Linked DNA regions of Homo sapiens: region 1 is linked to region 2. The links come from fine-mapping of genetic effects on gene expression. A gene starts in region 2. The other region holds a variant in brackets. All regions are shown on one strand. Distances are between the middles of the regions. Region 1 overlaps PEMT (phosphatidylethanolamine N-methyltransferase). Region 2 holds the start of CCDC144A (coiled-coil domain containing 144A).

Region 1 (5,369 bases), 820 kb after region 2:
TTCCCAGATTCCAAGGAGCTGGAAGTTGCTGCCATCATCAGGGTCATTGGTGGGCGTCTAGCCAGGCCAGCACTGGGCTCACAGCCTGAAAGCACCTCAGCCACAGGCAGAGGGAAATGGAGAAGGGATAAGGTGCCTCCACCCCTCACCCCTCCCCAGACCTACACCAGCCCTGCCTGCGGCCAAACACGGCACAAACCACAATCCTGCCTGGCCTGAGAGCCACGCGTGCCGGGAGCTGCCAGAGAGGTGGCTGACTCACCACCACCTCAGGCTTCTGTGCAACAAGGCCTGAGAGTCTTCTGCAAGGGGGAGCTGGTGCTGGAGCTGGACTCAAGGAGTCCTGCACCCAGCCCGGGCCGCAGAACGGGCATTGAGTGCATCTTCATTAGCTGGAGAGAAGCAGCAGGAGCTGCCTTCACTCCCCAGGAGGCAGCCGCTCAGCACGCTGGGGTAAGAGGAGCTGTTGGAGCCCAGCCTCCTGTTCTAACCACAGACAAGCCAGGCCTGGAGGAGCAAAGACGCCCCGATGGAGGGGGCCCCTAGCACTCCCACCGATGTCACGGATAGCAGGGCAGCAGCCACCTGGCCCTGCACCTCCCTGGGGCTCCAGCGGTCCTGCTCAGGGTCACCCCAGCCCTCAGGGTCTTACCTAGGAAAGTTCCAGCGAACCCCAGTGCAAAGAAGCTGGAGAGCACGAGCACGACGCCCAGTCCCAGGAGCGCGAGGCCCAGGCTGTAGGCCGCGGGGGTGTCCAGGCTCTCCATCCTGGGCTGGCTCAGCATGGCCTGCGTGAAGCTGTGGGCAGGGGATGGAGAGGGAGGACGTCATGGCCAGGGAGGATGTCACAGCCCGGGAGGAGGCCGACCTCATCTTCTCGCCCTCTCCCCAGGGACCCTTAGAGAGTAGCCAGCCCAGGGCTGCCAGGCCAGGCAGGCAGCAGGTGGGGTCCAGTCCACCTGGGAGGTGGGTGACAGTAACAGGGAGGGGCCCAGGCCTGTCAGATTTTTAAATTTTTTCAAGAGAAGCCAGAAATCCTGACTCGTATGTGAAATATCCTAATTTTTAGAAATAGACAATTCATGAAAGCCACTTTAGACCCTGCATGTGAGCAGGCTGGATTCAGCCCGAAGGCCACCAGCTTGCAAACTCTCATCCTGTCCAATGAGCAACTCATACTATGGAGGAAAGTGAGGCTCAGGAAAGACGCAGGTGCCAGGTTGCAGGGCAGGCCCAGGTGTCCCATTCCCCAACAGACTCAGTGCCCCGAGGCCTGGGGCATGCTCTGTGCTAGGGATTGCGCTTCCACAGCCCCTGTGGGTCTGGCCACATCCTGGGTGGCTTGACTTGCATTTAAAGGCACTTTGGGGGCCCTTAATGTCCTCCTCCACACCTGAATTCCCCCACTAGGCTCCCTTTGGGGCCAAACCACTGAAGGCCTTGTAAAAAGGTAGTGGGGTCCAGGTGTGGTGGCTCACGCCTGCAATCCCAGCACTTTGGGAGGCCGAGGTGGGCGGGTCACCTGAGGTCAGGAGTTCAAGACCAGCCTGGCCAACATGGTGAAACCCTGTCTCTACCCAAAATACAAAAATTAGCTGGGTGTGGTGGTGGGCACCTGGAATCCCAGCTACTTGAGAGGCTGGGGCACAAGAATCGCTTGAACCCAGGAGGCGGAGTTTGCACACCACTGCACTCCAGCCTGGGCAATAGAGCGAGACTTAGTATCAAAAGAAAAAAGAAAAAAAGAAAAGGCAGTGGCGTGACCAAAAGGGGGTGACTATGACAGCAGTGGGTCTAGAGGCTCAGGTTCTCCAGTTGGCTCCGGAGAACTGAGGGGCTGGTGCAGGGAGGGCACAGGGGCTAGGCATGTGCTGATGTACCCAGGCCTCATCACAGGGGAGCGGGCGCTGGTGGGAAGGGGGCCCTGGGTGCTAGATGAGAGGCACACTCACAGGAAAGGCTGTGTGTGGGAGCACGGACATGTGTGACCAAATGTGCTCTTCCCATGCTCACAATAATCACAACACAGAAGAGACATGGAGATCTGCTACCTCACGCAGGGCAGCGCCTTTCACACCCAGTCTGTAGACGGCATCTCCCAGCAGGGCCAGCTTACCATCCACCCCACCACCCATCCTTCCTCCATCCATCTATCCTCTATGCACCCACACATCCATCCATCTGTCCAGCTATCCATCCTTCCATCCATCAATGTATCCTCTATCTGCCCACACAACCATCCATCCATCCACCATGAAGTATCTTTGTTTGCTAGGCTCTTTCAAGCAGATTGAAGCCCCCATCTTCATCCACTCGTTCCATTCATTGGTGAATTCAGATTGTTGTGAAACTCCTTATGCTGAGCTAAGGACATACAGACATGTCTTTATGCCTCCCTGGAACTCCTTCCTCCAGCTTGACTGGGAGCTCTTGGGGAACAGAAGTTGCTCCTCCTTCCCTGCGTATCCCCCCAGCACTTGGCCCAGGCCACAGAATGGATGTTTAGTGCATATTCATCGACTGGAGAGAAGCAGTAGCCGCTCCTTCCTTCTCCTCCCATCCCCAAGAGCAGAGAAGGAGCCAGGGAGAAAGGGAGAAGGGCCTGTGGACAAAGCCACCAGGACCCGGTGGCAGAGGCGGGCACACCGACCTGTTAAACAGCGGCATTCGGGTGTCAGGGCAAACCCACTGCCGGTCATGCTGCCCATACCCCCAGCTCTCCACCCACCAGTGCCCTGCCCTGATCCTGCTGCTGCCCGGGCTCAGGGTCACCCCGCAGCTCCAGGCCGAGCCTCTGGGATTGGCTCAGGGTCACGGGCTGCCATGGAATCAGGTGGCCACATGCACACCCAGTGTGGTGCCACGATCCAGGCACACCTTCTCCCCTGCCTGGCACCCTCCACTCTCCTGCCTGCAGATGGTGGAGTGGGAGGGAAAGGAAGGGTGCCGGCCCTGCTCAGGAGCATGGCTCCCCTGCAAGCATCTGGCTCCTTGGCTGCCACTGCAGTGGGGACCAGAAAACAGACAGGGGTTGGGAGGGGCGAACAGGGGAGAGCATTCCAGAAAGAGGAAATAGCAGGGAGGTGTGCCTTAGAGTCTGGGGCAGGGCATGGAGCAGGGAAGGTGCAGGCCTCGGCCCGGCAGGGTTTGGAATGCACTCTGCCTGCTGTGGAAAATGCAGAACCAGGGAGACCCATCCAGGTGCTGCAATAGGGGGTGGGCGCAGAGGCCAGGCCCGAGACGCTGGAGGGTCACTCTGGACGGAGACTCTGTCGCTCTTACCCCCTCCTGCGGAGACCCGAGCCAGGCCTGGGTCCATACCCCATGCTC[A/G]GGGTTCCTCTGCCAGAATTCATCTGCATCACACAAGCAGGCAGCAGATGAAAGGGAACTTCCTCCCTCTGGTGTGGCCCAAAAGCCCAGCTCATTCAGGGCCCAGCTTCCCTGGGGGCATGGCTCAGTAGGCAAATCAGATCTGCTTGGAAGCAGATTCCTGATGAAGGGCAGATCCGGGGCCAGGGAGCGGGTGGGAGAGGCCCCAGATTTGCCCCAGACCTGACCCTCAGTCCCCCAGCTGCTCCTCCGCCTACGGCCCCAGTCCTGGGGCCTTTCCTTTCCTTTCTCTGAGATGACAGCCTGGGCTGGCTCCTGGCACAATGCTCTGTGGGTCATTTGCTCAGAGTCGGCAGAGGAACTGGGCTGAGCTCCTCCCTGGCGTTCTCACCAAGTGGCCCCTTACCCAGTCAAATACACTCTGATTCTAGATTCCAGGTTTACTGGAATCTCATGGCCCGAATTAGGCAATCGACAGTGTTCTAGCTCCTCCATTAAGCCAGGAAAGCACAGTCCGTCCATTCCACAGGGAAAATTAGTGGATGGATGAGTAGCTCTGTGACCACAAGCTCCCTAACAGAATGAGGTAATATAGGACGCAATTTCCCTTGGAAGTATTCCGCACTAGGGGTGGGGAACGGAGACTCATTCATTTGCCTTGGGTTCTATTTTTAAGACCTGGATTGAACCTTCAGTCATTAATGTGATTTGAGGCTGTCTGCACTCTGCTCCCATAAAATCCCGGAAACCCTGGGGTGGAGGTGGGGAGGGGGCATCACTGCCCTCAGTGTCCCCGCCCTGTCCCCAGCCAGCAGTCCTGGGCCACACACCAGGCCAGAGGCACACGGCCCCACCTGGGACAGGCCTGTCCCGTTTCTATCTGCAGCCGACCAGAAACACTTCCCTGACTTTGATCATCCTGGGGTGTCTCCGCAACGTCGTCCACATCCATGTGTGGCCTGAGTGCCATGTACTCCACATCCTTCACCCCAGGCTTGGAGTGACTCGCTCTTTCCACTCCATCTCAGCTACACGACGCTAGCCATGAAATGAGTCGTCTGATGGGCTCATTTCTTTTCCAAGACATATTAAAATAAGCATGTAACTACTAAAACAAAAAATGTTCATCTATGCAACCCCCGAGACCATCAAAGGGCTTGAATTTCGGGCTTTGACGCTGCACTAATTCTGAGCATTTGAATAACACGTCACCTTTCCAAAGTGTTTCCAGAACCCATCAATAGCTGAGAGAGAGTCTGTCTTGTTTTACAAACAGGGAAGCAGATGGTAGAAAGCAGGAGGGGCAGGATGGCTCTCCTGCCTCCTCACGACCTGTAAACAGTGGGATAGGCTCAAGCCTCACGGGCAGGCCAAGGACAACAGGCAGCAGTATCCCAGCACCCCTAGCACCTGGGAATCCCAGGCTGACACCCACTCTCCTTCCAGACTTCCTGGCCGTGTGTGCTTTGGGGATGGGGAGGGTGCCTCTTCCCTCCTTCCCAGCCACAGCCCCTCAGGTGCCAGACCAGCCTGGTCTACCAGGGCCTGGACCCACTCTTGCCGAACTGCAGCCCCTCTCCCTCCTTCCTTCCCAGCAGCTGGGGGCCCTTGTGCCCAGGAAAGCCTATGCCAGCTTCCCTGTCCTAAGTGTCCCCCCACCCCTTACTCTCCAGCTGCCCTCATGGACCCCGCCCAGTGGCTACCCCAGGCACCTGCCTCGAGGAAATCACTCTGGTGAAGGGATTTCACAAATAGAATTCAGGTCCTAATCAGCTGGCCTTGAGTTAATCAAAAGGGAGGTGACCCTGGGTAGGCCTTTCCAAAAGGGTCTAGAAGCCAGAGAGACCAAAAGCCAAAGCCACAGAGCTGCCTGCTGTGCTGCGGGGAGGCCACCAGGAGCTGGGCCTCAAGGACCCGCGTCCTGCCAGCAACCCGAAAGAGTGGAGGACCACGCCTTGGGTGAGCTCACACCCAGCAGGCACCTTGATTCCAGCCTGGGGAGTCCCTAAGCAAAGACCCCGCCCCCGCATCCAGCCTCC
Region 2 (5,369 bases):
TGTCTATAAAGAGCACACTAGATTGTACCCAGCACTTTTGGATATGACATGCTAATTAGATGTATTTAACTATTCATAGGAAAGTGTATGATAAATGACTGTAATATTTCTAATAAATATATTTTGTTTCTAATTATTTTTTTCTCACTGACATGTATCAATATTTTTTCAAAGTGCCACCCTTAAACTGAGTCTGTTTTCAGACCAGCATCTTCATGCATATATCCTTGTCAGGTCACAGTCTCCACTGCAGCTGCTCTTGCGGGTGGTGCTGGAATTTTCCACAGAGGACTGGGCTCCTGCTGGTTCCTCCGCTGCCCGTGTGCAGCTTTCTTGCTCAGGCCACAGGCTTACGTGAAGATCACCCTTCAAGGCCTACCCAGGACACTGCTGAGCTGTGCAGATGTGCACACGATATGTGCAATGTCATACGTGTGACTAAATGCCAACTGAGACCCCAGAAACCACTCATAGGGGGAATTATGCCAAGATTGAGGAGGCAGGGTGATACTTTTTTTCTTTTTCTGTTTTTTTTTTTTTTTTTTTTTTTGAGATGGAGTCTAGCCCTGTCGCCAGGCTGGAGTACAGTGGCATGATCTTGACTCACTGCAACCTCCACCTCCTGGGTTCAAGCGATTCTTTTGTCTCAGCCTCCCGAGTAGCTGGGACTACAGGCACGTGCCAGCACGCCCAACTAATTTTTGTATTTTTAGTAGAGAACAAGGGGTCACCATGTTAGCCAGGATGGTCTTGATCTCTTGACCTCATGATCTACCTGCCTCTGCCTCCCAAAGTGTTGGGATTACAGGTGGGAGCCACTGCGCCCGGCCACAGATATTTTGTAAATGATTGCTTCCTTACGCCTTTCTAGTTCATGTTTTCTTATACATAGTTACATTTCTTCTTTGCTATACTAAAAATCCCTAATTTTAGTTGGTCAGAGAGAGGGATTTGAGACTGAGCTCCCATCTCCTCGGCTGCAGCATCTGATTAAAGCCTTCTTCCTTTGCAATACTCATCTCAGTGATTGGCTTTCTGTGGGTGAGCAGCGCAGGATCTAGGCTGAAGCCCTGAGGCTTCAGTGACAAAATCTGTTTTTCATAATGCTATCTGTCTTAATTGTCCTCAAGAATTAGTATTTGAGTGCTCTCTAGATTCTCCTTTGTCACCCTTCCTTCCTTTCTTTCTTCCTTTCTTCCTTCCTTCTTTCCTTCTCTTTGCTTCGTTCTCTCCTTCCTTCTTTTCTTTCTTTTTTTGAGACGGAGTCTTGCTCTGTCGCCCAGGCTGGAGTTTGGTGGCACGATATCAGCTCACTGCAACGTTCACCTCCCGGGTTCAAGAGATTCTCCTGTCTCAGCCTCTGGAGTAGCTGGGACTACAGGCACGCGCCACCACGCCCAACTAATTTTTGTATTTTTAGTAGAGAGGGTTTCACCATGTTGGCCAGGCTGGCCTCAAACTCCTGACCTCAAGTGATCTGCCCGCCTCAACCTCCCAAAGTGCTGGGATTACAGGTGTGAGCCACCGCGCCTGGCCGTCACTTTTCTTCAATCTCACTGGTGCTCGCGGGCTGAAGGGTCAGGACGGACTAGAGGCGAGCAATCCTGGTGGCACCAGGCGTTCCCCGACCCGCCCGGGTCGCCAGCTGCACGGACCCTGGGCAGATGCGCGCAGCGGCTGCGGCACACGGCGGGGAGCGGCTGCTTGGCCCCATCCTAAGGCAGCAGAATGCCCAGAGCTGGTCCCTGGCTCCAGGCGCAGGCCGAGTAGGAGCTGGGCGGGCAGCGGCGTCGGGCAGGCCCTTCCAGCCGGGCTGACAGGCCGCTCTGACCCAGCCATCTGACTCCGCTTGCGTCCTGGCAGCGCGGACCCTAGGGCAACTTTGCTGCAGTGGCCAAGCCGGGGGCGGAACTGACCCGTACCCCTGAACCGAGCAAGCCTAGGAGCAGGTGCGCCGGCGGCGCTGTGAAGCGGCACTCATGACAGGCAGGCTGGGCACCGCCACCCCGAAACCTCCGAGGGAGGACCAGCCAGCCCAGGTTGGCGCTGGAGCTGCAGCGCCACCTGCAGGCCAAGGAGTCTTTTTCTGGGAGGCTGGAGCTGCAGCGCCACCTGCAGGCCAAGGAGTCTTTTTCTGGGAGGCTGGAGCTGCAGCGCCACCTGCAGGCCAAGGAGTCTTTTTCTGGGAGGCTGGAGCTGCAGATGCAGTGAAGTCACAGGTTCCGTGATGTCACAGGTGGGCAGGCGCACTGGTCTGTAACGGATTGGCTTGGCCTTACCCACGAGGCTTTGCGGTGGCTGTTGGCTTGGCGGTGGTCGCTTGGCTTGGCGTGGCAGTGATCGCTTGGCTTGGCATTTCTGGCTTGGCGGTCCTCCTTTCGCAGATTGGAAACCGCGGGCTATCCTGCTGGGAGGTTGTGGCCGAGGCAGTAGCTCGCTACTGATGGCCTCCTGGGGTGGAGAAAAGCGGGGAGGGGCTGAGGGGTCTCCGAAGCCGGCAGTCTACGCCACGAGGAAGACCCCTAGCGTCGGGAGCCAGGGGGACCAGTGGTACTTGGGCTACCCGGGGGACCAGTGGTCCTCGGGCTTCCCCTACAGCTGGTGGAAAAACAGCGTCGGCAGCGAGAGCAAGCACGGTGAGGGCGCCTTAGACCAGCCCCAGCACGACGTCCGCCTGGAAGATCTTGGCGAGCTCCACAGAGCTGCCCGGTCGGGCGACGTCCCTGGGGTGGAGCACATCTTAGCTCCTGGAGACACTGGCGTGGACAAGAGGGATAGGAAGAAGAGGTAATGGCCAGGCGAAGGATGCGCCGTCCTGTCGGGGACACTGGCTTTCTGGTGCCCGCAGGCCCCACGGCACCCGGGATGGGGAAACGTCAGAGGGGTCAGGGGCCCAGGCCTCTTAGTGAGACGGGATCAAATATAAAGGATTATTACTATTGCAAAAGTGTTGGTCTACTTTACAGGAGTTTTCTTTAAAAATATTGCACTTCCCAACTGTGTTTATCCATTTTCTCAATTTATTCATCAAACATAAGCTGAATACCTATTATACAGCAGACATATTCTACTGTCGCTCAGGTTCCTTCCATCCTTAAGAACTTCATGTTGGCCGAGCTCGGTGGCTCATGCCTGTAATCCCAGCACTTTGGGAGGCCGAGGAGGGCAGATCACGAGGTCAGAAGTTCGAGACCAGGCTGACCAACATGGTGAAACCCCGCCTGTTATGCTTTTGTCTCAGCCTAGACTTAGCTAAGACCTTCATGATAAATTATCCTTTAGGCCCTCGGGGTTCAGTTCAAATAATGTTGCAGAAAGAGAGGAGTTTCCTTTTTTCATTGCTACCAGATCTGTATGCTGAGGACCCTTTTCTTAGATCGTGGAATGTCCCATATTATCCTTTCCCAGATTTGTGGCAGGAAGCCATCACCAGAATTCTGAGTCTCAAGTATGTTAGTTGGATTTAACAGAGCTAAGTCTCATCCATGACTCATGAATATCCATGTATAAAATGAGAGCTTTGGCAGGGTGCAGTGGCTCATGCCTGTAATCCCAGCAATTTGGGAGGCTAAGGTGGGCGGATCACGAGGTCAGGTGATTGAGAGCATCCTGGCTAACACGGTGAAACCCCGTCACTACTAAAAAATACAAAAAAAAAATAGCCGGGCGTGGTGGTGGGCGCCTGTAGTCCCAGCTACTCAGGAGGCTAAGGCTGGAGAATGGCATGAACCCAGGAGGCGGAGCTTGCAGTGAGCCGAGATCGCGCCACTGCACTCCAGCCTGGGTGACAGAGCGAGACTCAGTCTAAAACAAACAAACAAACAAACAAACAAACAAAACTTGCTTCAGCAGCAAACATATACTGAAATTGGAACAAAATGGAGAGAAATTAGCATGGCCCCTGCCTGCATAAGGATGATGCACAGATTTTTGAAGTGGTCCATATTTTGCGCAGTCACTAGAAGTTCATTTGACTATTTGCTGACTAGTTCCAAAGACAGTGTGAGTCAAAGCAAACTGGGTATCACCTAATATTAAAATTGTGATTTTTCACTACAAAAATATGCAGTAAGGTGATCAATGGAGCTGAGTAACACGTGGGATGTTGTGTGCAAATATATTGTCAGTATGTATCTCAGAAATGAGAGAATGTCAACTTGCATGTCTTTCATGGAACTGAAAAAGAAAAGTAGCATTTTGTTTTCCATGTCAGTTGGAGATGAACATGGGGATTGAGCATCCTTCTAACAAAGATCTGCCGATTCAGAGTTTGAGTCTGTATGGAACAGTAGTCCAAGCTAGGTCTTGACATCTATTAGCTTTCTCCCCTTGGCGTGATTGATGAGCTCAGTAATAGTGGACAGTGTTGTTATCTAGTTTGATGAAATAATATATTTATAAGTAAATTTAGTTACAAACTATGAACTAGCTGTGATGCCCCAAATTATAAGCCACAAAGAATAGAACTAATAAAACTAGAACTTAATAACAGTTTTGGAAAACTGCAACATTTGAATATTAGAACCTCTGGAAAAATACACATTGGGTTTTATTTGTGATTCCAAAACCATTTCCTCAATAAAGCTCAAGAACAAATTATTTCATTGCTTCACTGTTTCTCTGAGCATTTACAAAACGTTTTCTTGTTAAATCTTTAACAACCTAGTGAAATAAGGCAGTAAAATCCTTGCTTTTTAGAAGAATACATTGAGCCTAAGAGAAGCAACTTGTCAGAGAATAAATAGCTGCTGGTAATAGAGCTAGGACGCTTTCCATTATGCCAAGCTAATGTGAGTTAATTTACTGAGCTATACTCCCTTCAATTCATGAGTACTTCATCTTTTTTTCTTCTTCAGAAGCTTAAAGAGAAGTTGGTAGAACTCACAAATTGAAGTATATGGGATAATTAAAGTTCTGATATTAACTCTGATATTGTTTGAAATACTCTAAAAATTTAATATATTTGGTATTTTTCATTTGTTTTAAAATAGTAATTTCATTTATTACATTTTTATCCATAGCATTCAGCAACTAGTTCCTGAATATAAGGAAAAACAGACACCTGAAAGTCTTCCTCAAAATAACAATCCAGGTAAGACTTCTGATAGTGAATTATTTTTGGTGGTCCTACCATAGGTAAAAAAGAAGTAAGAGTAAGGAAGTTTTGATCATGAAAGAGCAGTTTTAAAAAATCTTTATTTCTTTCTTGATAGGTTAGATTTCTTGGTAGGTTAGATGTCACAATTATTTAAAAAGTTAATTGTAGGTCATTTATTTTTTCAAACAATCTGGTCTGAAAAAAAATTAATTATGGTCCCTAAAATCCTATGTGATATTTTTGTATAAATAAGAAAAAGTGTTTTTTTTTG

The links. PIP is the estimated chance that this variant, and not a neighbour inherited with it, causes the effect.
Region 1: its variant is fine-mapped to the expression of CCDC144A in breast (GTEx, PIP 0.97).

Annotation. Positions count from the first base shown.
Region 1 is chr17:17,511,857-17,517,225 of GRCh38, forward strand. PEMT (phosphatidylethanolamine N-methyltransferase) reads right to left here. Exons shown (of 7, transcript NM_148172.3): 4 at 653-798. Among named protein-coding and RNA genes, the nearest start is that of RASD1, 18 kb to the left of the region's middle. RefSeq lists enhancers at 873-1,742, 1,743-2,612, 3,483-4,352, 5,223-5,369. The variant A/G (reference allele first, on the strand shown) is at 3,331.
Region 2 is chr17:16,687,958-16,693,326 of GRCh38, forward strand. CCDC144A (coiled-coil domain containing 144A) reads left to right here and starts at 2,284. Exons shown (of 17, transcript NM_001382000.1): 1 at 2,284-2,787; 2 at 5,022-5,092. The coding sequence starts at 2,444. It also overlaps the pseudogene RNU6-405P. RefSeq lists an enhancer at 1,274-2,177.